Linked DNA regions of Homo sapiens. The protein of the gene in region 6 purifies or fractionates together with the protein of the main gene of each other region. This does not show direct contact. Each region holds a gene or a part of one and is shown on either strand. Other genes may lie near its edges.

The links.
Region 1: the proteins of LILRA5 (region 6) and IDUA purify together in Homo sapiens (affinity purification with mass spectrometry; one large-scale study listed by BioGRID and IntAct). This does not show direct contact.
Region 2: the proteins of LILRA5 (region 6) and CNTNAP3B purify together in Homo sapiens (affinity purification with mass spectrometry; one large-scale study listed by BioGRID and IntAct). This does not show direct contact.
Region 3: the proteins of LILRA5 (region 6) and STAM purify together in Homo sapiens (affinity purification with mass spectrometry; one large-scale study listed by BioGRID and IntAct). This does not show direct contact.
Region 4: the proteins of LILRA5 (region 6) and BOLA3 purify together in Homo sapiens (affinity purification with mass spectrometry; one large-scale study listed by BioGRID and IntAct). This does not show direct contact.
Region 5: the proteins of LILRA5 (region 6) and PLXNA1 purify together in Homo sapiens (affinity purification with mass spectrometry; one large-scale study listed by BioGRID and IntAct). This does not show direct contact.
Region 7: the proteins of LILRA5 (region 6) and ERFE purify together in Homo sapiens (affinity purification with mass spectrometry; one large-scale study listed by BioGRID and IntAct). This does not show direct contact.

The regions. Positions count from the first base shown.
Region 1 is NC_000004.12:1,000,544-1,004,043, reverse strand, and holds part of IDUA (alpha-L-iduronidase isoform a precursor), read right to left. Parts: intron 3,433-3,500; coding exon 3,347-3,432; intron 3,163-3,346; coding exon 3,055-3,162; intron 2,577-3,054; coding exon 2,481-2,576; intron 2,366-2,480; coding exon 2,163-2,365; intron 2,063-2,162; coding exon 1,883-2,062; intron 1,776-1,882; coding exon 1,559-1,775; intron 1,313-1,558; coding exon 1,100-1,312; intron 1,009-1,099; coding exon 887-1,008; coding exon of another isoform or gene 700-886; coding exon 574-699; intron 496-573; coding exon 419-495; exon of another isoform or gene 415-418; intron 33-414; coding exon 1-32.
Region 2 is NC_000009.12:42,122,927-42,126,426, forward strand, and holds part of CNTNAP3B (contactin-associated protein-like 3B precursor), read right to left. Parts: intron 1-3,500.
Region 3 is NC_000010.11:17,682,151-17,685,650, reverse strand, and holds part of STAM (signal transducing adapter molecule 1), read right to left. Parts: intron 977-3,500; coding exon 901-976; intron 820-900; coding exon 724-819; intron 1-723. UniProt on the Homo sapiens protein: Involved in intracellular signal transduction mediated by cytokines and growth factors. Upon IL-2 and GM-CSL stimulation, it plays a role in signaling leading to DNA synthesis and MYC induction. May also play a role in T-cell development.
Region 4 is NC_000002.12:74,134,900-74,137,912, reverse strand, and holds the end of BOLA3 (bolA-like protein 3), read left to right. Parts: intron 1-2,254; coding exon 2,255-2,320; coding exon of another isoform or gene 2,321-2,391; 3' UTR 2,392-2,513; downstream 2,514-3,013. UniProt on the Homo sapiens protein: Acts as a mitochondrial iron-sulfur (Fe-S) cluster assembly factor that facilitates (Fe-S) cluster insertion into a subset of mitochondrial proteins. Probably acts together with NFU1.
Region 5 is NC_000003.12:126,986,115-126,989,614, forward strand, and holds part of PLXNA1 (plexin-A1 precursor), read left to right. Parts: intron 1-2,406; 5' UTR 2,407-2,479; coding exon 2,480-3,500. UniProt on the Homo sapiens protein: Coreceptor for SEMA3A, SEMA3C, SEMA3F and SEMA6D. Necessary for signaling by class 3 semaphorins and subsequent remodeling of the cytoskeleton. Plays a role in axon guidance, invasive growth and cell migration.
Region 6 is NC_000019.10:54,306,570-54,310,166, forward strand, and holds the end of LILRA5 (leukocyte immunoglobulin-like receptor subfamily A member 5 isoform 1 precursor), read right to left. Parts: intron 1,180-3,597; coding exon 1,129-1,179; intron 981-1,128; coding exon 844-980; 3' UTR 501-843; downstream 1-500. UniProt on the Homo sapiens protein: May play a role in triggering innate immune responses. Does not seem to play a role for any class I MHC antigen recognition.
Region 7 is NC_000002.12:238,165,470-238,168,969, reverse strand, and holds the end of ERFE (erythroferrone precursor), read right to left. Parts: intron 3,365-3,500; coding exon 3,286-3,364; intron 2,015-3,285; coding exon 1,916-2,014; 3' UTR 80-1,915; downstream 1-79. UniProt on the Homo sapiens protein: Iron-regulatory hormone that acts as an erythroid regulator after hemorrhage: produced by erythroblasts following blood loss and mediates suppression of hepcidin (HAMP) expression in the liver, thereby promoting increased iron absorption and mobilization from stores.

The DNA.
Region 1 (3,500 bases), on a different chromosome or scaffold from region 6:
GAGAGAACTGGATCTCGTATGTCCACAGGCACCTGGGGAGGTCAGGCCAAGAACAAGGCTGGGGTCAAGACAGTCCTCAAAGGTGGGAGCAGGCAGGGCACGGCCGCGTGGACCCACAGCCTCATTCCCTCAAGCCCCTCGGCGGCACCTCCCCAGCCCCTGGGCACTCTTCCTGCCCAGGCAGGAGAGGGCTGGAGCCCGAATGTCCATCTCATGTCCCCTAGGAGAACCCACACCCCACTGGCAGGGCCTGGCGCGTGGCCCACAGTGTGTGGGGTGAAGGGCAGGGACGCAGGGCGGCGAGGGAGGGAGCCGATGGGCCACGGCAAGTGGCCCGAGTGACCGCATGGGTGAAGGGGTCGGGACCCAGGGACCTGCCTAGGACCAGGCAGAGGGAGGGGCGGCCCCACTCACGCACTTGGAGCCCACGTGTTCATCCGACCAGACCAGAACCAGCTGCCCTTGGGTCAGGGGCAGGGCGCGGAGCCGCGTGACCTGGGGGAGGGAAGGGCTGTGATGGCGTCGGGGAAGGGGAGTCCGGGCCGCGGCGCGGGTTAGGGGACTGCCACTTGCCTGCCCGGGCGGCTTCTCGGGGCGCGCACACACGTGCACCAGCAAAAGCGACGGCAGCCGCAGCGCGGGGCGCAGGGTCAGGCGGCCGCCGGCGGGTAAGGGGCGGGGCGCCGCGGCCACCGGGTCCTGGGCGCAGTGGCCGGTCCTCAGGGTTCTCCAGGGGAGCTGGGGACGCTCGGCCCGACCTCAGGGCGAACGCCCCCGGCCCACCGCTCCACCTCCCACCCACACCGCCTCGGAGCCCCCGCCCCGGACCCCACCCCCCCGGGACCCCGGCCCGGCCCGGCCCCTCGCCCCTCCGCGGCCCACCTACCTCAGCCGCGCGCATGCGCCGGAACTGCTCTGCCGTGGGGAAGACGGGCCGGCCCAGGCGCCGCCACTCGCCGTCGGGGCTGCAGAGCCCGTTGTCCAGGTAGCGCGTGACGTAGACCAGGCCTGCGGGGCCTGACACTCAGGCCTCGGCTCCCCGGGCCGCCCCCTCCAGAGCCCCAGCGGGGCCAGAGACCTCCCTGGAACCCCGGCTTACCCGGGCCGGGGGGCACCCCGCGCAGCCGCAGGGTCACCGCGACGCTGCGGTTGGGGTGGGCGCGGGTGTCGTCGCTCGCGTAGATCAGCACCGCGGCGCGCCAGGCGTCGGCCGGGCCCTGGGGGCGGTGGGCGCTGGCCAGGACGCCCACCGTGTGGTTGCTGTCCAGGACGGTCCCGGCCTGCGACACTTCGGCCCAGAGCTGCTCCTCATCTGCGGGGCGGGGGGGGGCCGTCGCCGCGTGGGGTCGTTGCCCAGCCGCCCCCCGACCCAGGGCCGGGCCTCCCACCACTCGCTCCCCCTCCCCTTGGTGAAGGAGTCCCCAGGCCCCGCCACGCGGAGGCCGACCCCGGGAAGCGCGCGGCTGGAGGAAGTGCGCTCCCCGCAGCGGGGCCTTCGCAGGAGCCGCTCCCCAGCCTGGAGGGCCCTGGCCGGCCCACCCCAGCGGCCCCGGCTCACCCAGCAGCGCCAGCAGCCCCATGGCCGTGAGCACCGGCTTGCGCAACAGCTGCACGTGCGGCGGGCGGGTGTTGTTGACCTGGAAGCGCGCGGTGAGCGTGCGCTGCGCGAAGGGGTGCGGGTGGTAGCTCAGGAAGGCATTGTCGTTGCTCAGGAGCGCGTAGGGGAAGGCGGAGGTGGTGTTGGCCAGTAGCAGGTTCTGATGCTGCGCGATGACCTGCGGGTGTCCAGGGCAGCTGGGACCGGGTGGCGCGGCCACCGCTCGCCTGTCCCGTCTCGGGAGGAAGGTGGCCGGGGGGCGCGCAGGGCGTTGGGCCGGCCCACCTTCACCACCATGGCCGCGTAGGTCACGTCCGCCCTCCACGGCTGTGGCAGGGACCAGCCCACCAGCGGGTCCGCCTCGTCGTTGTAAATGGGGGTGTCCGCGAACTTGGGGAAGAGCTGCCGGATCTGCTGCGCGACGACCTTCTCCTGCTCCAGGATGGAGATGGAGCTGCGCGCACCCTGCGGGCGGGGCCGCCTCAGCACCACCAGGGTCAGCGCGGCCCGGGGCACAGCGGCTGAGGGCGCAGAACACCGGGGCGGACGGAGGGGCAGGGCGCACCTTCCTGTGGAGGGAGATGTAGTCCAGCCGCACGCCCGCCTCCCCAGTGAAGAAGTTGGTACCGTCGTGGCAGTGGCGCAGGAGGCCCCAGCTCAGCGGGGATCGCGGTGGGGTGTGGAAGGAGTCGCCGGGGCCTCCCAGCCGCAGGGCGGGGCTGGCGGCGCGCAGACCCTCCGAGCAGGCATCGTAGTAGTTCAGGAAGCCTGGGCCGGGGGAGCACTGCGTCTACACCTGCCCTGGGGATGAGCGGCTTAGCCTCTGCTCCTGCCTTCCTCTGCCCCCTTTCAGCCGGGCAGGACCCCAGGAAGCGGTGCACACCTTGCATGGTCATGGAGACGTTGTCAAAGTCGTGGTGGTCTGGCTCATTCCACGTCTCGAAGTTCCACTTGGAAACATGCGCCAGTCCGTACCTACCTGCAGAGGAGCCTTGCTGTCCCCCCAGCACAGGTGAATCTCGCCTCAGTGACTCCCACGGAGGGAGGGTGCAAGGTGATGAAGGGCGTCTGACTCAAGATGAACCCCATCTCCATGCAGGCCAGCCTCCCGCCCCACATCAGGAAGCGCTGGCTCAAGGGGGTCCAAGACCTGGGCGGCGGCCTGGGTGATAGGGGTGCGGCCTGGGTGATAGGGGTGCAGCCTGCCCAGGAGTACCCCCCACCCCAGGGGCCCAGGGCCTTCGCCCACCCACCAAGCCCAGGAGTACCCCCCAGCCTGGGGCCCCAGGGCCTGCGCCGACCACCAACCTATCCCTTGTCACCCCCATCCCCCCACAAGGGCCTGCGCCTGCCCACCAATGTATCTCCTGACCAGGCAGCAGCCTGCGTGATAGGGGTGCAACCTGCCCAGGAGTACCCCCGCCCCGGCCAGGGCCCCAGGGCCTGCGCTCGCCCACCGATGTATCTCCTGGCCAGGCTGGAGACCAAGTCCTTCCACTCAAACACCTGCTGCTTGTCCTCAAAGTCAGTGAAGTGGCCCGAGGCGCTGCCCATCAGCTCAAACCCTGGAACACAGGAGGGCTGCCCCACCGCCCACCACACACCACACCCATGCTCTGCCAGGCCTGTGCTCCGGCACCAAGGCCAGCCCTGAATGGACATCCAAGGACTCAGAGGGGCTGGGTGAGGGAGAGGGTGGGCAGGGCAAGGGGGTGCAGGCGGGCTGGGAGGGCAGAGCCCACAGCTCACCTGGGAGGAGCTGGTTCTCCCTGAGAAGGTCCAGGTACCCGTCCAGGTGGGTGAAGTTGTAGCTCAGGCCCCGTCCAGTGGACCCCCTGCAGAAGGACGGTCAGCGTCAGGAAGCAGGGTGCCCACACAGCTCCATGCTCCAGGCTGGAACCGT
Region 2 (3,500 bases), on a different chromosome or scaffold from region 6:
AGGGACCTGTCCAAAGCTGGGTTAAATATAGGATGTCTGAGAGACACCCTTCTTTCATAGTTCGAGGGTAAGCATGTAGCTGTATGTGTGTGGAGGGGCGGGTGGAGGAGGTTAGCTGTATCAGGGTAGGCATAATACTATATTTTAAATCCCTCCTTCTGTTATAAATGTAAGCTGAAAATAATCTCTGCTCCCAGCGGCAGCAATCGTAAACTCGCTTAGTTCTGCCTGTAATTTAATTTAATTTAACATGTGACATTGAGACAATGTTTCTTTTAATTCACATATAACTTCTTCCTCACCCACATTCCAGCCAAATAAACACATACTTATAGAAAAATGTGACTGTTTTCCTGGGCAACCCAACAATTCAACTGTCCCTAAAACACCAGGTTCAATTTAAACTCTATTAGCTTGTCTGAGGGCTAAGATATCTAAAAATCCAAGACAAATTATCATTTGCATATATGGAGGCAGCTCTGATTGAACAGATATCTAAAACTGATAGGTAATATTTTAGATCAAATCACTCCATCAAGTCAAAGACTAATTCAACTGTTTGTTCAGTTTCCAAAGGAATCCTTCCATTTTGGTCTAGTGTTCCATAAACATTGACTTTACATGAAAAGGACAGTGAAGAGATCTCTTGAACCGGCCAGAAAGTTGAAGCTCAAGGTTGCAGAAGATTTGAGCTACCAAGTCCAAGCCTTCTAAAAGATTCCCAATATGTATATATATCATTTTCCTAACTCTACATTTGCCTGAGAAGCAATGACATTCAATAAACTTTTTTCCACGGGATTTAGTTACAAAATAAGTTAAGGAACTACAAGTTATATATTTCCTGGAAAAATATACTATTATACATATATATTATATATTCAAAACTCCGTAAAGCATATAAAGTATAAGCATATACTGAGTTATAAGGCATAACTCAACATGTTATTTTAACCTAAAATTTTCTTAGGGCCTCAATTGCAAATGCTTTAATTGCCAATGGTTCATAAACACATCTGTGAATTAGAAGCAAGTAATATCCTCTGTTTTTATACTCTCAAAAAATGTGATTATACTTAATCAAAAGTAATTCAAACCACAGCCCAGGCAATACATACTAGACCACGTCTTCTTGGTAATTTAATTCTTAGCAATAATTTTAATTGCTGCCTAATTAAGTAGGCATGCTACTTAAATCACAATCCTGTAGTTATAAGGTTAAAACTATTTTAAAATCTCAAATGTTTTTAGATTTCAATCACTCTTCGTATTATTACAACAAAAATGTTCATTAACTGGAACACATGCAGTATCATTTTTTAGCCCCCACTTTATGATATTTTTTAATTTTTATTACCAGAGTAGTCATTTCATTATAAAATTTTAACCAAGCTAAGCATATACTCCATTTTTTAGAAAACTAGATTTACTGTAGTCCTGTTAAGGCTATCATAGTAAGCAATGAATTTCACACTTGTCTTTTATACAGTACCACAACACATCAAGCAGATATATGAATTCCTTGACAAAATACATTTAAAACAAACAATTCCATGCCTTATATGTCAAGTGGAAAAGGAATATTTTTTCTACAGTGACAGAGCAGACTTGACATGTGCACAGTCATGTACAACCAAGCGTTTGCAAATGCTCTTACAACGTGGAGCAACCGGGCCTAGGGACAAGCAACCTTTCAGCTAAGAGTCTCGTCAAAGGTGCGGAAGCCCATTACAGAAGACCAGATAACAGTCAGTCTGACGGGTTCATTCAGATATTCAAGCTTTAAAAAGTACTTCGAAGACTGATACAGATGTCCTAGGCAATAAACTTCCCAAAAAGAATGGAGAACAATCCCAGTGCCAATTACATCTTTGTCATTCAGAAATCCAGGCTAATTTGATTTAGAGACATATATAAATGAACTGTTATTTCTCATAATTGTTTTTTTTTCAGCCTCTTTATTTTTAATCTACATCTCTTAGGTAAAATGCATCAATTTAACTACACTTACTTATTCTGAGTTTTTCTATTGGTCCATGTTTCCTTTAAACACAATTTTGAATGGTTTTTTAAAGTAACCATTTGATTTTGAAACCAATTTACAGAAAACATGGAAGAACTATGCTAATATGCTGTATCACCCCTGAATACTTCAATGTACATTTCCTACAACAAAGATGTTCTCCTATATAACCATAATATGATCATCACAGTCATCATGGATAAAGTTCCAATATTTAATCCCCAATCTTGTTCAAGTTTCACCAATTCCCAATCATGTCCTTTATAACATAAGCATTTAATGCAGAATAGTATTTAGTTGCCTTGTTTTCTTAGCCTCTGTCAATCTGGAATGCCTCCTTCCTCACTCCACTCAACCTCTGACAACTTGCTATAGGTCACCACCAGTGCTGTCTCCTGTCTCTCCAGGTCCCCACCCTTGCTATACTGTGGATGCTTTCCTTACCCTGCTGGTTTCTGAATGCTCTGCCATGGTCCTGGGCCTCCCCACTACCCAGCATGGATGCCTAAGCTGAACTGAATGACCTTGGACTGAATTGTTCAAAAAGAGAAGGGGAAAGGAAGAGGAAGAAGAATGCCAAGTAATTTGATTTTTCTTTTTTCATGATCAAACCAATGTCTTGGAATTGATTATCATTTCCATGGGCTACTTCAGCTCCGTACTGTTTGTATAGAGTTTGGTGAAAATGAATAAAGGCATGTGAACTACATTTTTTGTTTTTTTTTTTTTGTTTTTTTTTGAGACAGAGTCTCACTCCGTCACCCAGGCTGGAGTGCAGTGGCACGATCTCAGCTCACTGCCTCCTCACAGGCACCTGCCACCATGCCCTGAAATTTTTTCATATTTTTAGTAGAGGCAGGGTTTCACCGTGTTGTCCAGGCTGGTTTCGAACTCCCGACCTCAAGTGATCCACCCGCCTCAGCCTCCCAAAGTGCTGAGATTACAGCTGTGAGCCACCGTGCCCAGCCTGAACTCCATTTTTTATAGAGTACCATTTGACACTAAAATTAAGAGTCTGTTACTCATCTGCAGAATCTCTCTTAAAATGGTATTACTAAAAGGTCCAAAATGAAACATCTGTAAAAATAATTATTCCTACACTCTGTGAGATCTCTTTCCTGACACATTTCACATCTAAGTGAGTTTCCTAACTAACCCACACACACTCTATAGTAGGCTTACCCTTCTTTCCCCAGGCTGGCTGGCGAACTTGCAAAACATAACCATTTAGGGGAAAAAATTGAGGCAATTAAAATTAAAAGTGTTTTAGGCTAAGTAATGAATAAATTAACCCACTGAAAAGTTACATCAAAGGCTATTACTCAGCATTTTACCAATTACAGGAATTTCTGCAAAATCTGCCCAGCCATTTGTTTGTGTATCCCTGGGATCAGTGCCCAGAGTTCAATCTTTCTCTTGATGCTTCCTGTTGTTTTCAGGGACTCAATGAGAGCAGTAAGTGACCTTTCACTCAGTG
Region 3 (3,500 bases), on a different chromosome or scaffold from region 6:
TGTTCAGGTTGTGGCCCAAAACACTAAAAGATCAAGTATGTTGCTAAACACACAGAAACCAGCCCCAACCCTGAGCCAAATTCCTTAAACCCTCCTATAAACTGCAGCCCTCCTGTGTAAGTTCCCCTAATAAATCCTTTAGACTGATCACCCTGGCATTTAGTGCCTCTTTTTTTGGACTCTCATCTGGCCCTATCTGGAACAGTTTGGGGCAGTCCCTTGTGGAAACTCCCCCGCCACCACTTTTGAGGCAACTCCAGCTGTGGGTTCAGCCAGTAAGAATAGCAGTATAGTATTAAAATCCTGTGATGGCCAGGAAGCAGCCTTATTGATAAAGATAAAAACTCAACGGTGCCATAGACTTTTTGCAGTGTTTCTGAAAGGTTTTCCATTAGGAAAATACCTTGTGCCTACAAAAACAGTATGTAAAATAGACTGATATTATTTAATTAGATATAGAAATACCTGTTTTCTTATCAGATGAAAGTATGATGGAAAAGAACAGGTTAAAAACACTCTAATATGGCTTGAAAAAACTAACTCAAAGTTACATGAATCCGCAGTCTCTTCAACAAAACATAATATTTATTTATATACTGGATAGACACAGCCTAGAAAGGATTTCTTAAAAAGCACAGAATAGTCCTCTGTGAAGATTTAAACAATAAAATATGTGAAGAAAGAAGACTGCCTTAATTAATTTCTGGAAATAATGCTCCTTACCTTATTTAATACGTTGCTTACTTCACTAGCAAAATCTCTTGAACATACTTCTAAATGAAAAATTTTGCCACAGTTTGATACACATGCTCCTAGAAGCTAAAAGCACAAAATCAGAAGTTAAAGGGGCTCAATTGTGGCAGGTAATTTCGTGGTACAGATTAAAATGAAACCACTCACAGTCAAAGCCTGCATAGCAACGTGAGGATCTTTGTGGTTCACTCTTCTCATAATAGACCGAAGACAATCCTTAGGTCTAAAAAAATGAGAAAAGTAAAAATTACTTAATAATACATCTAGCTTCCCCCTGCCCCTTAACTGTTATAGACAAAAGACTACGATAAAAAGGGAGACTATGATAAAGTAGGGAAATTTAATTTTTATTAATAACACGGTTGAAAAACTGTAAACTAGTTCCTTTAAATTTTTCAAACAAAATTAACAGGCTCTCTTATTAGTAATCGTAGATGAGGCATTTCAGGCTAATTCTGGGTAGGAAAAAAAAAAAGGTTTGAAAATAAAATGGTAGGCCATGACTTCCACTTCCAGCCAGGGTGGAAAAACAGACCAGACTTACACTCCCGTTGTAAACAATTAGAAAACTGGAAAAACAGATTTTCCACACTGAGGTTAACTTTTTAAAGACATGAGGCCACAGGCAGTACTGAATGATAATATCCAAGAAGGAAAATGAATTAGATAAGCCAGAAGTTTGCCTCAACTTTCTGCCTAGAGGCACTTTCCAAGTATCAGTGAAGACCTTCTGAAAAACCCACGCATGCACAGGTGAAAAACTCCATGAAACTGGTCAAAAAGTGACCGAGGGCGATATGCTAAAGAGATCCAACGCTCACACAGTCGTCAGAGATGAGGCCACAGTGAAGCATCTATTGAAAATCCAGAGGATTCAGTGGATATACAGGGGAGTTTAGACCCTAGCAATGCAGCTCAATCATACCTACATACTGCCTAACAACATAAGCCACAGACGAATGTAACCACTTCTGAAAAAATAAAGTCCAATACTCCTTAACAGGAATACAACACCTGATGCTCAAAAATATAAAATTCAAAGTACTAAGCATTCAATAAAATGATATGAAGACATGATATGAAGAAGAAAACTACCATACACAACTAGCAGAAAATTCAGTCAACTGAGAATGCAGAAATAACAAAGATGATGAAATTAGCAGTCAAGGACTTTATATAAGCTATTATAAGCATGCTGGAAATCATCCACATAATGATGAAGAAATATATTAAAAAGGGCCCAGATAAAAGTCTAGAGACAAAAAAATATGTAAAATTAAAAAGTGGATGGAATTAATCAGGTAAGAATGAAAGATCAGTAAATTTGAAAATATGCTGAAAGTACCCAAACTGAAGTACAGAGAGAAAAAAAATGAAAAAATTTAACACAGAGCCACCACTACAAATATTTTTAAGAGAAAAATGAAAATAAAATAGCTTGGGTGCAGCAGCTCACACCTATAATTCCAGCATTTTGGGAGGCCGAGGTGGGCAGATGGCTTGAGTCCGGAAGTTTGGGACCAGCCTGGGCAACACTGTGAAACCCTATCTCTACAAAAAATAATACAAAAATTAGCCAGAAATGGTCCCAGCTCCTATGGGCGCAGTGAATGGCCTGAGGTGGGAGGTTCACTTGAGCCCCAGAGGTCGAGGATGCAGTGAGCTGTGATGGCACCACCGTACTCCATCCTGAGAGACAGAGTGAGACCCTGTCTCAAAACAAAGTTTTAAATCAAAAAAATAAAACCATAAAAACCATTTGATTGATACACAAAAGACAGAAAGAGAAAACAGAAGAAACATAACCAATCATCTAGAAAAATGGCAGATTAAGATTGTAATCCAACTACACTTTTATCTATTCACTACCGTTAGCAGTTTTCATAACAAGGAATACTAACAGGGATAAAGAGAGACAGTACATAATAATAAAACGGTTAAGTCCCCCAAGGAAACATAATTCTAAATGTGCATGAACACAAAAATAGAACTTCAAAATATATAAAGGAAACATCGATACAGCCGAAAGGAAACACAGACAAATCTACTGGAAACTTCAACATGCCCCCTCAATGACTTGATAACACAAGAAAAAAAAGTACTGATATGGAATACCTGAATGACACTATCATGAAACTTGACCTGACTGGCATTACACAACAATCCACCCACCCATGGCATTATACACATTTTTTTTCATGTGCATGGAAAATTCAACAAAATGGACTACATTCTGTCCTATAAAACAAACACTGATAAATTTAAAAGGACTAAAGTCATACAAAGTACATTCTTTGACCATAACAAAATTAAACTACAAATTGATAACAAAATGATAGCATAAAAATACCCAAATATTTGGAAATCAAATAACAAATATCTAAGGCTTACAACAAATGAAATCACAGAACCATAATTTCCCTTAAGGACATGAAAATGAAAGCATACTACCCAGTACTCTTTATAAGAATGTTCACAGAGGCTCTGTTCAGAGTCAAAACCTGGATACAATCCAAATGCCCATCAACAGATGAATGGATAAATTGTAATATATTAACACAATGTAATACCTCTTCCCCAAGAAACAGGAATATTGATACATACAAAAATTTGAATTCATCTTAGAAACACATTTAGTGCTAGACACAGGAGTACTGACAATACTATTTCATTTTATGAAATTCTAGAAAAGGAAATTTAATCTATAGTGACAATGCATATTAGTACTTGCATAAGGTGGAAGGAAC
Region 4 (3,013 bases), on a different chromosome or scaffold from region 6:
TAGGGAGCATTCCACGCCTGCAGAGAGCAAGTGGCCCAGGGACCTTCGCCCAGTGATTATATGAGGCTTTTTCCAGGGACATTTCTGCCTGTCCGCAGAGTTGAGGGCCCTGCACTTGATTGTGGAGCTGGAGGGTGTGCAGTGTAGGCCAAGTGGGGCAGCTCATTGTCCCCCAACACAACAGGAGCTCCCGGATCAGGGCAAGTCAGGAACATGATGGAAACCAGGTATGGCCAGGACCTCAGGATACCTGGGTTCATATCCTGATTCCATTACTCGCTTGTTTGCTGACTTTGGACAAGGAGTAGACTCTATTTTTTTTTTTTAATTAAATAAGGGGATGGGACTAGATTGTGTCTAAGGATCTATAAACCTGACCACATATATTAGGATTCTTTATATTGTAAGAGACAGAGACCAAATTAAAATTAGCATAAGCAAACAAAGGGAATTAATTGGCCCATGTAACAAAATTATCTGGTTTCTGGCATATCTAGATTCCTCTCTCTCTCTGAGCTTTCAGCTTCTTTCCCTGTGTTGGTCTCCTTTTCTCCTGCTAAAGATGGGCTTTCTCTCCTTGGTGGGAAACACAGTCCATGGCCACCTCCAATTAATTTCATAGCATGTTGGCCCAAGAAACAAGGCTCCACTCTCAGAAATCCCAAGGGAGATTCTAAGTGGCCCAATTTGGGTCATGTGCCACCTCGGTCCAATCATAGGCTGGGCCAGTGGCACATAATGACCTCAATATCAGACCAATTGGTGGTTCCACCAGAATTATACAATAGAGTGGAAAAGGAATTATTCCCCAAGAGAAGGAGATCACTAAAGAGACTAGAAAAGAAAAATGTCCACTCTAGTATGATTATCAGATTTTGGCCTAGTATAAAAGGACCTTATTTCTTCCTCTGTACTGATTATAAACTTGAGCGGTCCAAGCCCCACTCTGATTCTGTAACCTCACTTTCTCCCAGCACTACAGGGGCCAAATATCTATTTGACTCTGGTAGTTCCTTCAGATTTGGGCTCTGACACCATTTGTAGCCTTAAAACAAGTCCCATAATTCCTTTGAAACTTTATTTCCTGCTCTGACCATTGGGGAATTTGTGCTAATTGGTATGATTTTAAAGAACTGCTCATTTTAAAGAATGCTTGATGCTCGAAATAACAAAACACAGGAAACAGCCTAAAAGTTCGCTAGGGGACAGGTTGAAAAGTTATAATGCATTCATATAATGGAATACTATGCTGATGCAAAAAAGAATCAGGACACCCATATATGCCTAACATAGAAAGATCTCCAAGATAGATGTTTGGGGGAAGAGCAAAGTGTAGAGCAGGGGTGTCCAGTCCTTTGGCTTCCTTGGGCCACAATGGAAGAAGAATTCTCTTGGGCCACACATAAAATATACTAACACTAATGATAGCTGATGAGCTTTAAAAAAAATTTCAAAAAAAATCTCAAAATGTTTTATGAAAGTTTACGAATTTATATTAGGCCACATTCAAAGCTGTCATGGGCCGTGGGTTGGACAAGCTTGGTGTAATGTGTTTGAAATTTTAACCATTTGCGTTTTAAAAGGTCATGGGGTGAAATATATTAGCTTGAATATGCCTGGTGAATATGCATTTTTAAGTCCCTGTAAAGATACACAAGAAACTGGCCAGGTGCAGTGGCTCACGCTTGTAATTCCGGCACTTTGGGAAGCCAAGACAGGCAGATTGCTCCAGTCCAGGAGTTCAAGACCAGCCTAGGCAATATAGTGAGACCCTGCCTCTACAAAAAATAAAAAAATTAGCCAGGCATGGTGGCATGTGCCTGTAGTCCCAGCTACTAGGGAGGCTGAAGCAGGAAGATTGTTTGAGCCCAGGAGGTGGAGTTTGCAGTAAGCCGATATCGCGCCACTGCACTCCAACTTCGGCGCTAGAGCGAGACCATGACTTAAAAAAAAAAAAAAAAAAAGATACACAAGAAACTAACAACAGTTCTTTTGGGAACAAGGGTGGAAACTGGGGAGATGGACAGGTATAGGAGGGAGACTTCCCTGAATGCCTTTTTGTACCTTTGAATCTTTAAATCATGTTAGATATTATTGATTTAAAAAAAATTGTTTTTCAAAAAAAGGAAAAATTGCTTAAACAAAGCACATACAAAGTCTCCTTCAGATGCAGAGCTGTATAAAAATACTCTCAGAGAATTACTGTAATCAACGTCAAATACACAAAAACTGATGATGCTGTTTTCTTACTTAGGCACTAAAAGAAGAAATCAAAGAGATGCATGGATTGCGGATATTTACCTCTGTCCCCAAACGCTGACCACGCCCTGGCTGCATAGATGCTGCTGCTTAAGACCTTGGATGAACTTCACTGACATCATTCTTCCCTAAGCAGTCACCAAAAAATTTATATATTTTGCTCATATACATTTCCATATTATAATTATAGAAGATGTATAATCTATTTAGATGTTAATTAAAGGAAACAAACAACTGAAGCTTTTGAAGGGTCATTAGTAATGTTTCAGGTTCCTTTATTTTGGCCAAAGGGGTCTTGTCTTTAGACAGTTCTGTCCTGCTACAGAGAGAGAATGCAGTGCCAGCTTTTTGTCTTTTGAAGAGGTTTTCCTGTTTCTTCCCCTCCACGAAACTGCTCAGGCCTCTTCATCTTACTGAAACAAAGAAAAGATCCTTTACTATTGCTGTTCTTTTCGTTTATCATTCTTTTCTTCCCCCTCTAAACTTCTTACATGAATGATCTTGGACCCTCAATTTCTTATGCTCTGAAATGGACTCTGAAAATTTGGGGGTGCCAGGATCCGGGTTCTTTTCCTGTGTTTGAAGATCCTCCACCCTTTGATTCTTGGTAGGAGGCAGAGCCCACCTCCCACGACAGAAGCTGAAAAGGCTTACTTTCCCTGCCTCCCTCACAGCTGAGGCACAGGCAGATATTCCAGACTCAGCCAATCAGATGGACCTGCCCTGAACTTGGGAGCAAGTCACACCGAGGAGC
Region 5 (3,500 bases), on a different chromosome or scaffold from region 6:
TTATCCCAGAGGAGGGGAGAGCCCAGCCCCTGGTAATTGCAGGCCTGCTTTGAACTGATAAACGGTGAGTGATTCATGTTTTCTTTGGAGTTCACATGTGCTCAGCTCCCAGCCCCGGCCCCACTGCCACTGTGAGGAGCCTGTTTTCTGGCTCCCGGGTCTTCCTTGAGCTCTGAGGCGGGGGCGGGAGTGGGGACTCCTCCCCTGCTGTTCTTGGGGCGCTGTCCGGCAAAGGCAGCTGGCAGCCTGCTAGGAGCACCCTGCAGTTCCTGCTCTGGGATTCCAGCCAAAGCTCTTTGCTTCTGAGAGCCTCGGTTTCCCCACCTGAGCAGTGGGTGTGTGCTGTGCACACACTGGGCAGGGAGTGTGTGGGGAGTGAAACAGGAGTGAAGAAGCATGGGGGGCTGCCGCACCCAGACCTGGCTGGCCCTCCGCATACCCTTCATTCATTCGCTCACTCACGGGGATTTATTGAGTCTTCCTGGGTCCCTGGCTTGGCTTGGGGATGCAGTGGCAACCACCCAGAGCCAGGCCCTGCTCTCACAGGGCAGCCATTCTGGCCGGGAGAATGGGAGCAATAAGTAATAGAGACCCTTCACGAGTCCTGTGCTGCAGATGAGAACAGGGTGACTGAGCAGGGCGGGGAGTGGAGACAGGGGCACAGAGGCCTGGGGGAGGGGCAGGCAGCCCCACACTGCATGTGGGCACCAGGCACAGAGGCTGATGGGACTGTGCCCAGCTCCCTGGTAGACTTGGAGAAGGCATCCATCTTCAGGCCTCAGCTTCCCCATCTGTAAAATGGGGCCAGACCATACAAGGGGTGTCTGGGATGGTCTGTGCAAACTGGCTGGCTGAGGCTTGAACTCAAGACTCAGGACTCAGCCTTGCTGTAGCCGGCTCCAGCCAGGAGTGGGTGAGAGGCCCCAGCACATCAGGCACATCCAGGGCAGCAGGCCCTACTGACAACCAAGGGGGTGGCACTGCTGACTATGCCTTGTGGGCAGGTGTGCCCTTTCCTCTTTCATCCATGAGAAAAGAGCTTTCATGCCCCTTTTGCAAATGGGGAAACTGAGGCTAGGAAAAGGGAGTGTCCCCATCAGAGTCATCTGCCTACAGAGTAACAGGGTCTAGATTTAGCCCAGTGCTTGGCTGCCAGTTGCTAGGCAGGGTGTGGTGAGACTTTTCCAGAGGCAGTGGAGGCCAGGACAGGATATGGGGACTCCCGCCAGGATCTGGGCAGCGCTGACCTCGTGTGCAGGTCAGAAGAGTGGCCTTAGCCTCTGCATAGGGACCTGGCTGTAGGTGGTTGTGGGTGGAGGGAGCCGAGTACCCTGGCAATCCAGGAAGGAGGGGTGGGCATTTTGTGGAGTTTGGGGTGGAGTCAATGGACCTTGGTAGTGAGTGTGACCAGGAAGTGAGGGCCCGATGTGGAGCAAGGCAGGAGGGGGCCACACAGGTCTGGGTGGGTATGGGGTGCTGAGGCTGGGAAGGGGTCACTGTGGAGGGGTGGAGTGCAGGGAGCACCTGCCAGCCTTCCCTGTGGAGGAATTCCTCTTTCCTTGGAGTTGGGTGTGAGGCTGGGAGCAGGACTGGTGGCTTGGATAGAGTGCTGAGAGTCAGGGCTGGTGGGCCAGGGAGCCTGGGAAGGGGCCGTGTGGCGGGGCACCCGTCGGCTGGGGTGGGGATGTGGGTGGGACACATTGCCTGGCTTCTGGACTGCAGGTCTCAAGGTTTATCCAGCATGGGGCTTGGGGTCCCACCGAGAGCAGCCCAGGCTGCCACCTATCCACAGTGAGAACTGCTGCCTGTGTGGCCTGGGCCTCCATGTCCTCCGTGGTGCCTCTGCTGTGGGCTGTCAGGGCGTGTTCGGGGGAGAGGCAGGGCTGTGGAGGTGGGAGTGAGCACTAAAGCCCATCTATGTCAAGCTTCTGTAGGGGACGGTGGTGGAGTATGTCCCCACCAGCCTCAGGCAGGGAGCTGGTGCCCACCCTGGGAGTACAGAGCTGTGGGGAGGGTCCTGCTCCCCAGTGCATAGGGAGGCTCTGGGTGAAGGCTGCTCTCCAGGTTGGTGTCAGATGTTGGTGTCAGCTGGGGTCCCATTCCACACCTCAGGCCCTTGTCACCTGCCTTCCTGTTCCTGGCCTCCGCCAGTGATGGCAGGGCACAGGTGCCAACGGAGTGACCTCTTGCCAGGTGTCCTGGGGATACCTGGTGCACCCCACAGCTTATAGGGCCTCAGGCCAGGGAGGTGCCCAGTTTGCCCCTGGCTCCTCCTGGTGGGTCAGGTTCTGCCTCCTGGAGGTGCAGTGGGCACGCCCAGCACTGGAAGGGCTCACACTGGGAGATCATAATATCATGGGATGGGCCATGCCTGCATTCACATGCCCTCTTCTGCCCCTTCCCCAGGGCTGAAGCTCCTGGCACCATGATGCTCACCCCAGCAGGACCAGAGCACCGAGGCCCAAGGCCCCAGCCTGCCATGCCGCTGCCACCGCGGAGCCTGCAGGTGCTCCTGCTGCTGCTGCTGTTGCTGCTGCTGCTGCCGGGCATGTGGGCTGAGGCAGGCTTGCCCAGGGCAGGCGGGGGTTCACAGCCCCCCTTCCGCACCTTCTCGGCCAGCGACTGGGGCCTCACCCACCTAGTGGTGCATGAGCAGACAGGCGAGGTGTATGTGGGCGCAGTGAACCGCATCTATAAGCTGTCGGGGAACCTGACACTGCTGCGGGCCCACGTCACGGGCCCTGTGGAGGACAACGAGAAGTGCTACCCGCCGCCCAGCGTGCAGTCCTGCCCCCACGGCCTGGGCAGTACTGACAACGTCAACAAGCTGCTGCTGCTGGACTATGCCGCTAACCGCCTGCTGGCCTGTGGCAGCGCCTCCCAGGGCATCTGCCAGTTCCTGCGTCTGGACGATCTCTTCAAACTGGGTGAGCCACACCACCGTAAGGAGCACTACCTGTCCAGCGTGCAGGAGGCAGGCAGCATGGCGGGCGTGCTCATTGCCGGGCCACCGGGCCAGGGCCAGGCCAAGCTCTTCGTGGGCACACCCATCGATGGCAAGTCCGAGTACTTCCCCACACTGTCCAGCCGTCGGCTCATGGCCAACGAGGAGGATGCCGACATGTTCGGCTTCGTGTACCAGGATGAGTTTGTGTCATCACAGCTCAAGATCCCTTCGGACACGCTGTCCAAGTTCCCGGCCTTTGACATCTACTATGTGTACAGCTTCCGCAGCGAGCAGTTTGTCTACTACCTCACGCTGCAGCTAGACACACAGCTGACCTCGCCTGATGCCGCCGGCGAGCACTTCTTCACGTCCAAGATCGTGCGGCTCTGTGTGGACGACCCCAAATTCTACTCGTACGTTGAGTTCCCCATTGGCTGCGAGCAGGCGGGTGTGGAGTACCGCCTGGTGCAGGATGCCTACCTGAGCCGGCCCGGCCGTGCCCTGGCCCACCAGCTGGGCCTGGCTGAGGACGAGGACGTGCTGTTCACTGTGT
Region 6 (3,597 bases):
CATGGTGGCATGCGCCTGTAGTCCCAGCTACTTGGGAGGCTGAGGAAGAAGAATTGCTTGAACTCGGGAGGTGGAGGTTGCAGTGAGCCGACATAGTGCCACTACACTCCAGCCTGGGTGACAAAGCGAGACTCCGTCTCAAAAAAAAAAAAAGAGCGAATGGGGCTTGAAGGCTACAGACAAGAGGTTAGGACGCCATTTTGGATTTATCTTTTCCTGGAGGGCATCTGATCTTCTCCCATGGATTTAGTTACTGGTTCAGGTGTGGAACTCTGAACTGAAGAGATGGAGGCTCAGTAAAGCACACAGGGAGTGTGATAATGAGAATTGAAGTGGACTGTGTGACACGCCAAGGACCAGAGCATGCAGGTGTGCAGAGATGTGGACCCAACGCTGCCTGCCATGTGGGATGTAGCCTCATGTCTCGGGCTGGGAAGAGAAGGGAATCCAACCAAGGGAAGTCAACATTAATAGAAAGGAAAGGTGTCACATTTTAATGGTCCTCCATGGATCACCCCAGACCAGTGTCTCTGCACTCAAACACCCATTCCTCCCTCTAGAAATTGCCAGAGGCTGAGGCAGGAGAATCACTTGAACCCGAGAGGCGGAGGTTGCAGTGAGCCCAGATTGCGCCACTGCATTCCAGCCTGGTGACAGAGCAAGACTCCATCTCAAAAAAAAAAAAAAAAAAAAAAAAGAAAGAAAAGAAAAGAAAGAAAAAAAGAAATTGCCAGCAGACAGTCCAGATGGCATAGGCCTCAGATGGTCTTCCCGAACCTCCTAGGACCATCAGATTCGCTTCCAAGGCTCCAGCATTCAATGGTGCATTGTTCTCTCTTCTGTTCACCTTCCAGCTGCAGCTTGGGGGCTTCTCTGGCTGTGCCAATCCTGAAATATCAGAATCCCAAGGACCACCAGGATCAAGCCGGCCATGCCCATGCGGATGAGATTCTCTACTGCGTAATCCTGAAGGTGTGAGGCTGGGGATGGTGGACAAAGAGGTCACAGAGGTCAGGGCAGATCAGTATCACCCAGGACCCCTGGATGTCTCCCCAGGGCACCCATATCATCTTGACAGGACCTGACCCTCTGTGCCAGTTCCATAACTGAGAGCATCTCCTCACTCACCAGTCCCAGAGTCAGACTTGTTTTGTGACGGACTGAGGTTATCAGCTGCTCCTGAAAATCAAAACAGGGGAAGGGGAAGGAGAAGTTCTTGAAGCAATCTGAGCCCAGCCTCTCCCCTGAGCTCTGCATTCTCCTAGTTCCCTGTGCCTCTCAACATGACTTTTATGGAGTTCCTCCATAAACCCTCCCTCTGCTGGAGCAGGGTTCCCTCCAGTCTCCTCACTGAATTATTTCAGCTTTCCTTTGTTCTTTGAATTTAAACTTTGCTCCTGAGTCATTTGGGAAAGAGCTTTCCTGCACCGTGAAAGCTCAGGATCTGCAAGGAAAGTGGCCCCCAGAAGTCACTGAGCCCTTTGTGCTCTCTGTGCAGCCTGGGACACAGGAGCACATAAGCCAATTCCCCCAGAGATGAGAGTTTCACGGATCCACCAGCTGAGGACCCAGGCTCCATGGATGACGGGTTGGTCCTCAGGGGCTCCTGAAAGTCAGAATCACAAACAGCTGCCTCCCCTTGACGCCACCTCAACCACCTCACCTGGTGTTTCATCATACAATAAGTCTCTAGTCAGCTAACTATTCATATAGTCAGTCATATATATATACGTATGTATATAAATGTGTGTGTGTGTGTGTGTGTGTATATATATGTATATATAAATATATATATATATATATATATATATATATATATATATATATATATATATATATGGTGTTACAGAGGCTCATAAAACAATTTCTGCTTTTAGGGCCAGGCGTGGTGGCTCATGCCTGTAATCCCAGCACTTTGGGAGGCCAAGGCGGGCAGATCACGAGGTTAGGAGTTCGAGACCAGCCTGGCCAACATGGTGAAACCCCGTCTCTACTAAAAATAAAAAAATGAGCCGGGCATGGTGGCACCTGCCTGTAATCCCAGCTACTTGGGAGGCTGAGACAGGAGAATCACTTGAACCTGGGAGGCAGAGGTTGCAGTGAGCCCAGGTCATGCCATTGCACTCCAGCTTGGGCAACAGGGCAAGAGACTCCATCTCAAACAAACAAACAAAAATTTCTGCTTTTATAAAGTGTGAGTCTAGGTGAGAAGACCAATAACAAACATGTAAAAGCCCTCCATGTCAAATACATTAAGCATGTAGATATACGTATAAAAAATATATGCAGATATACCTACACTTATATTCAGATGTAACTTATATAACCATACATAAATATGTATATATGTAAAACTTTAGATATTTATTTAAGATGCAGTTACATGCATATTAATACTTGAAGTGACAAAAATTGATATGCGGTTTAGAAATAAAAAATAAAATTTCAATTTTCTTATAGTTAATATAAATTTTATCAGTAAATTTGGGGAGATCAGTTGAAAGATAATTGAAAGGGAAAAATGTTATAGCAAGCTAAAATGAAATTAAATGAATATACTCAAACTAAAAGCTTTCTCATGTGTATATCTTACTTAGAAATATAAATGAATCAGGCTGGGCATGGTGGCTCACGCCTGTAATCCCAGCACTTTGGGAGGCCTAGGTGGGTGGATCACGAGGTCAGGAGATCGAGACCATCCTGGCTAACACAGTGAAACCCCATCTCTACTAAAAATACAAAAAAATTAGCCCGGCATGGTGGTGGGTGCCTGTAGTCCCAGCTACTCGGGAGGCTGAGGCAGGACAATGGCGTGAACCCAGGAGGCGGAGCTTGCAGTGAGCCGAGATCGCGCCACTGCACTCCAGGCTGGGCGACAGAGCAAGACTCCATCTCAAAAACAAAAACAAACAAACAAACAAAAGAAATATACATGAATCAAATACTTCACTTAAGAATAAAGTAGTTGAAGAATTTTTTAAATTAGACTAAATGTACACATTCTTATGAACGGAACTTGAAAACACTTATTAACTTCATTAATAAACTTCAATTTTATATATTAATAATAGAAATACTTGCTATTAACAACTAATTTTATACAGCAAATGTAAATATTGAATTATGCCCCCAGGACAATGGGAGTGGAATTACTTGTTTTTAAATCATAAATCCATATATCTTAAAGAGACAAATTTAAATATTCAAATATTGTTTTAAAAGATTCAGAAGAAGAGAGAAAAAATAAACAAGTATGCCCAGAAAATGCAGAGCAGCAATGAACAGCAGACAAGACGTGCTGTGAATAAGTTCCTAACTTCCTCCAGGGAGCAGGTGCGCGGCCCCTCCTTTGTCTCAGGGGTGCCCTGAGCACAGAGGCCTCCAGGTGAGCACAGGAGGGGCGGTGTGAGTGGTACCCACAGCTGGGGCGCTTCTCTCTAAAGGAGCAGGTCTGGCGTGGACTCCAGCCTCATCACCGTCAGATCCCACCGAGGCCTGAGCAGCCTCCTCCCCTGTCCTGAGTGGGCTCAGGGACCCCGCAGGTGTGGGTGAGGGGCTCCATCCTCAGGGGCTCTTGGAAATGAGAAGTGAGAGCTG
Region 7 (3,500 bases), on a different chromosome or scaffold from region 6:
TTTTGTTTTGTAACTGTTGTGTCACATAGTTCTTAAGTAAGTACTTGAACCACCCCACGAAGTCAGTTATATAAATATATTCCACTTGGCAGTATTTATTAGACAATAAATACTTTAATAAATTGCTGCATAACACACTGAGAAAAATGAAAGAGATGTGGATATGTGGCTTTTACAAGAGTGAAAGATAAGTTCTCTAGAATATCTGTGCCCAGTGGATACAAAGTGAAATCTAGATAAGGGCGTGGCCACATCACCCCCTTATCAAAACACACGGATGCAGTACCCAGGCCAGCCCAGTACTTCTAGGTAGGGTGGGTGTGAGTCCTACTGAGAATCGCACCAGGCCTTTCCCAGGGCAGAGTGTTTGGTTTTTGTGTGTTACTGCACTTGGGGATGGAGATGTTTGATTCGATGTTGGGGTTTGGAAGCTGGGCTCCTGGGGATCATTCGGGCCTGGTGGCAGCCACCTCATCCGGAGGCTAGTTAGTTAGAAGGTGAAGGTGACTGGCCATTGCTCCCTTCTCTCCCAGGCCTGAGCGCCCTTGCCAGACCAGCTTGGCTCCCAGGAGGTCCTGAGGCACCAGGTTCTTCGTAGCCTGTTGTGTGGGGAGGCAGTGGGTTAACTCTTCCTCAGCAGGTAGGAGGCCCTGGAGGTCGCTGCCGAGGGCCTTGTCCTCTTCACTACCTACTCTGGGACAGTCCTGTACTTTGGGGAAAATGTGGGAGGCTACATTTGAGGAGGCTGCGGGCTCACAGCCTGTGTGTCCTCATGAGAGCTGCCGTCCCCATCCCCAGGCCCCATCACTGCCACAGGAGCACAGCAGGCTTGGGACCAGCCCTCCCAAGACCACCCTTTCTCGGGACCATCTCTCGTCCACCACCTGTCCAATGTCAGCGCCGCATGGCCACCCAAGTGGGAAAGATGCTTGGGAGGCTCATCCCAGAGCCGCTGGACCCAGCCAGGCCCTGGCACCCCTGGTGGAAGACTCTGCTTCAGCTATTCGGATGATGGGTCAGCAGGCCCGGCTGTCTCCAATCTGTAAAGACGTTCTAGATCTTTCCTCTGGTGGGTGGCTCCTACCAGTGAGTCAGCACCTCAGAGGGGAGGGGAAAAGGGATCTCATCCACCTCTGGAGAGGGTGGAAGGGGCCTTGGCTGTGAAGATTTGCAGAGGAGGGGAAGAGTGGAGCTCCCATTTGGAAAGGCCTTCTGAGGTGAATTTGTGAGTTAATCTTGCACACATTAGAACTAGAAGCTGGGCCCAGACTTACTGTCCCCCAAAGGCCCTTGTCCAGTGCCCCTCTGGCCCAGGCTAGGCAGTGCTCAGCTCCACTGGCAGGTAGAACACGGTTAGGGGAGGGGCAGGGAAGACCAAGGAGCCCAGATGGAGACCAGGGGAGTGGTGAGTGACCCCGTCCCTTCTAAGCAGTAAGAACACACAGCGTACGTCCCTGTGGCAGCCCCCTCAGCCCTGCGTCAGCTGACCCTCTCCCAGGTAGGGGCCCTGGCTGGTGCACTTTGCACTCCATGAGAACATGAAGAGAGGTGGAAAAGGTGGGGCTGGGCACAGGAAAGACGCAGAGGCCATCTGGGCAGGTGCTGAGCAGGCCAGGAAAGAGTCGGCCTGCAGCTGGAGACTAGCAGGTGCCCCCAGGCACGCCGACTCTTTCTTTCCTGGATAAGAGCCCAAGATGGTGTCCTGAATCAACCCTGGCTCCGGGACCACCAGCGTGCGTGTCACGTCCGTAGGCCTGCCTGCAGTGGCTCTGTGGGCTGAACTGCAGTGGCCAGTGTGGGCAGAGTTCCGGGTGGGCCTCCTCCTCCATGTGGCCACTGCTACTCTGACACTGTCCACACATTGTCTAGATCTGTGCTCCATTTGCCCCTGAGAGGAAGGGCCTGTGGTGGCCGCTCACACGCCCAGGAGGACAGCACTGAAGTGGGAGCCACTGCGCACTGTGAGGGAGCAGCCGCTGGCGTTGTCCAAGAACACGGAGGTCCACTGCCCCATCTGCAAGGAGGGTGCCTTTGAGGCACTGGGCCACCCCAACAGCCTGCAGAGGTGACCCAAGGGCCAGCCAGCCACACTCCCTCCTGCCCACTCAGCCCCGCTTTTGGGAAGGGCTCAGGCCCAGAGAAGAATGTGGCCGCCAAGGTCACAGAGCAAGGGCCCGCACGGGTTGGGCCCCACCCAGCACCTCTTCTGCTTTCCCTGCAGCGCCCTACAGTTCGCGTGTGTGGGAGTGGGCCCCTGCTCAAGGCCAGAGTGGGATTCAAGAGTCCAACAGGTTTCTCAGCTGCAGGGCTTCTCAGAGCCTGCAAGGGCTCCAAGTCAGGTGGGAGGGTGGCCCTTCCCCACAGGCAGTCATTTGGCAGAGCCTTCCGTGAAACCAGCACTCTAGCCTGGCTGCTCCAAACGTGGTCATGCACCAGCAGCGTGGTCATGCACCAGCAGTGTCACATTCCCTGGGAACTCCCAGAAATGCAGAATCTGGGATCCACCCAGACCTGCCTCAGGATCTGCATCTTAAGATCCAGGTGGGGCAGAGACCATCTGAGTTCACCAAGCATGCTGTGTGGCACCCAGAAGGGACCTCTAAATGCCTTTCAGCAAGCACAGACTCTGGGCCAGACAGCCTGGCCTCCATTTCTGGCTCTGCTGTGTGAACTTGGGCTAACTCGGGGAGTAGCTCTACCTTCTCCAAAGCTCTGGGAGAATTCAATAGCAGCTGTTATTCCACACACCTGCACTCAATTGTTTTCTTTGTTAGTAAATTCCACCTTTATGTCCATTTCTCTACCACTTGCCAAAATTCCCACAGTGCCAGAGATGGTCACTTAGGGTTTTGGGTAGGAAAATAACGTATCTGGCTTCCCATAGTCACAGGGGACTCAGGGCGTCAGCCTGGGCAGAGTGCTGGCCTCCATTCCCTCCCTGCACCAGTCCCTTCAGCGGGCTTGTGGTGGCCAGGAGTACTGGGCCTCAGGATGAGGTGCTCAGGGAGTCTGAATATTGGGAATGCAGAGCGGAGCAGCTGCTCAAGCGGGCAGGTGCCCTCGGGGAAGGGCTGTGTTTGGAGGAAGGAGATCAGGACTTGAAGCCTGGCTGCGCCCAGACCAAAGTGAGAACTTGGCATGTCCTGGACCCTCTCCCAGGCCTGGAGTCTGAGGGTGCTGCACCCGACCCAGTGATCCTGAGCATCTAACAGCACCCTTCTGCACCCAGCCACCCGTGGCCATGCCCAGGCGGTGCCCCTCGATGCCCAAGCCTGCCGCACTCACCTGCAGGTACAGGACGCCATTCACAGAGATGGTGAAGAGCTCACTGCTGCTCTCCAGGCCCATGATGGCCTCCAGGGAGCTGTACCCAAAACAGAGGGAGGGTCAGCCTGCCCCATGAGACCCCACCAACTTCACCTACGACACACAATCCTGCCAGCAGCCAACACATGCCCAGCAAAGTGCCTGACCCTGGCCAGGTCTTCCAGTGGAGGTGG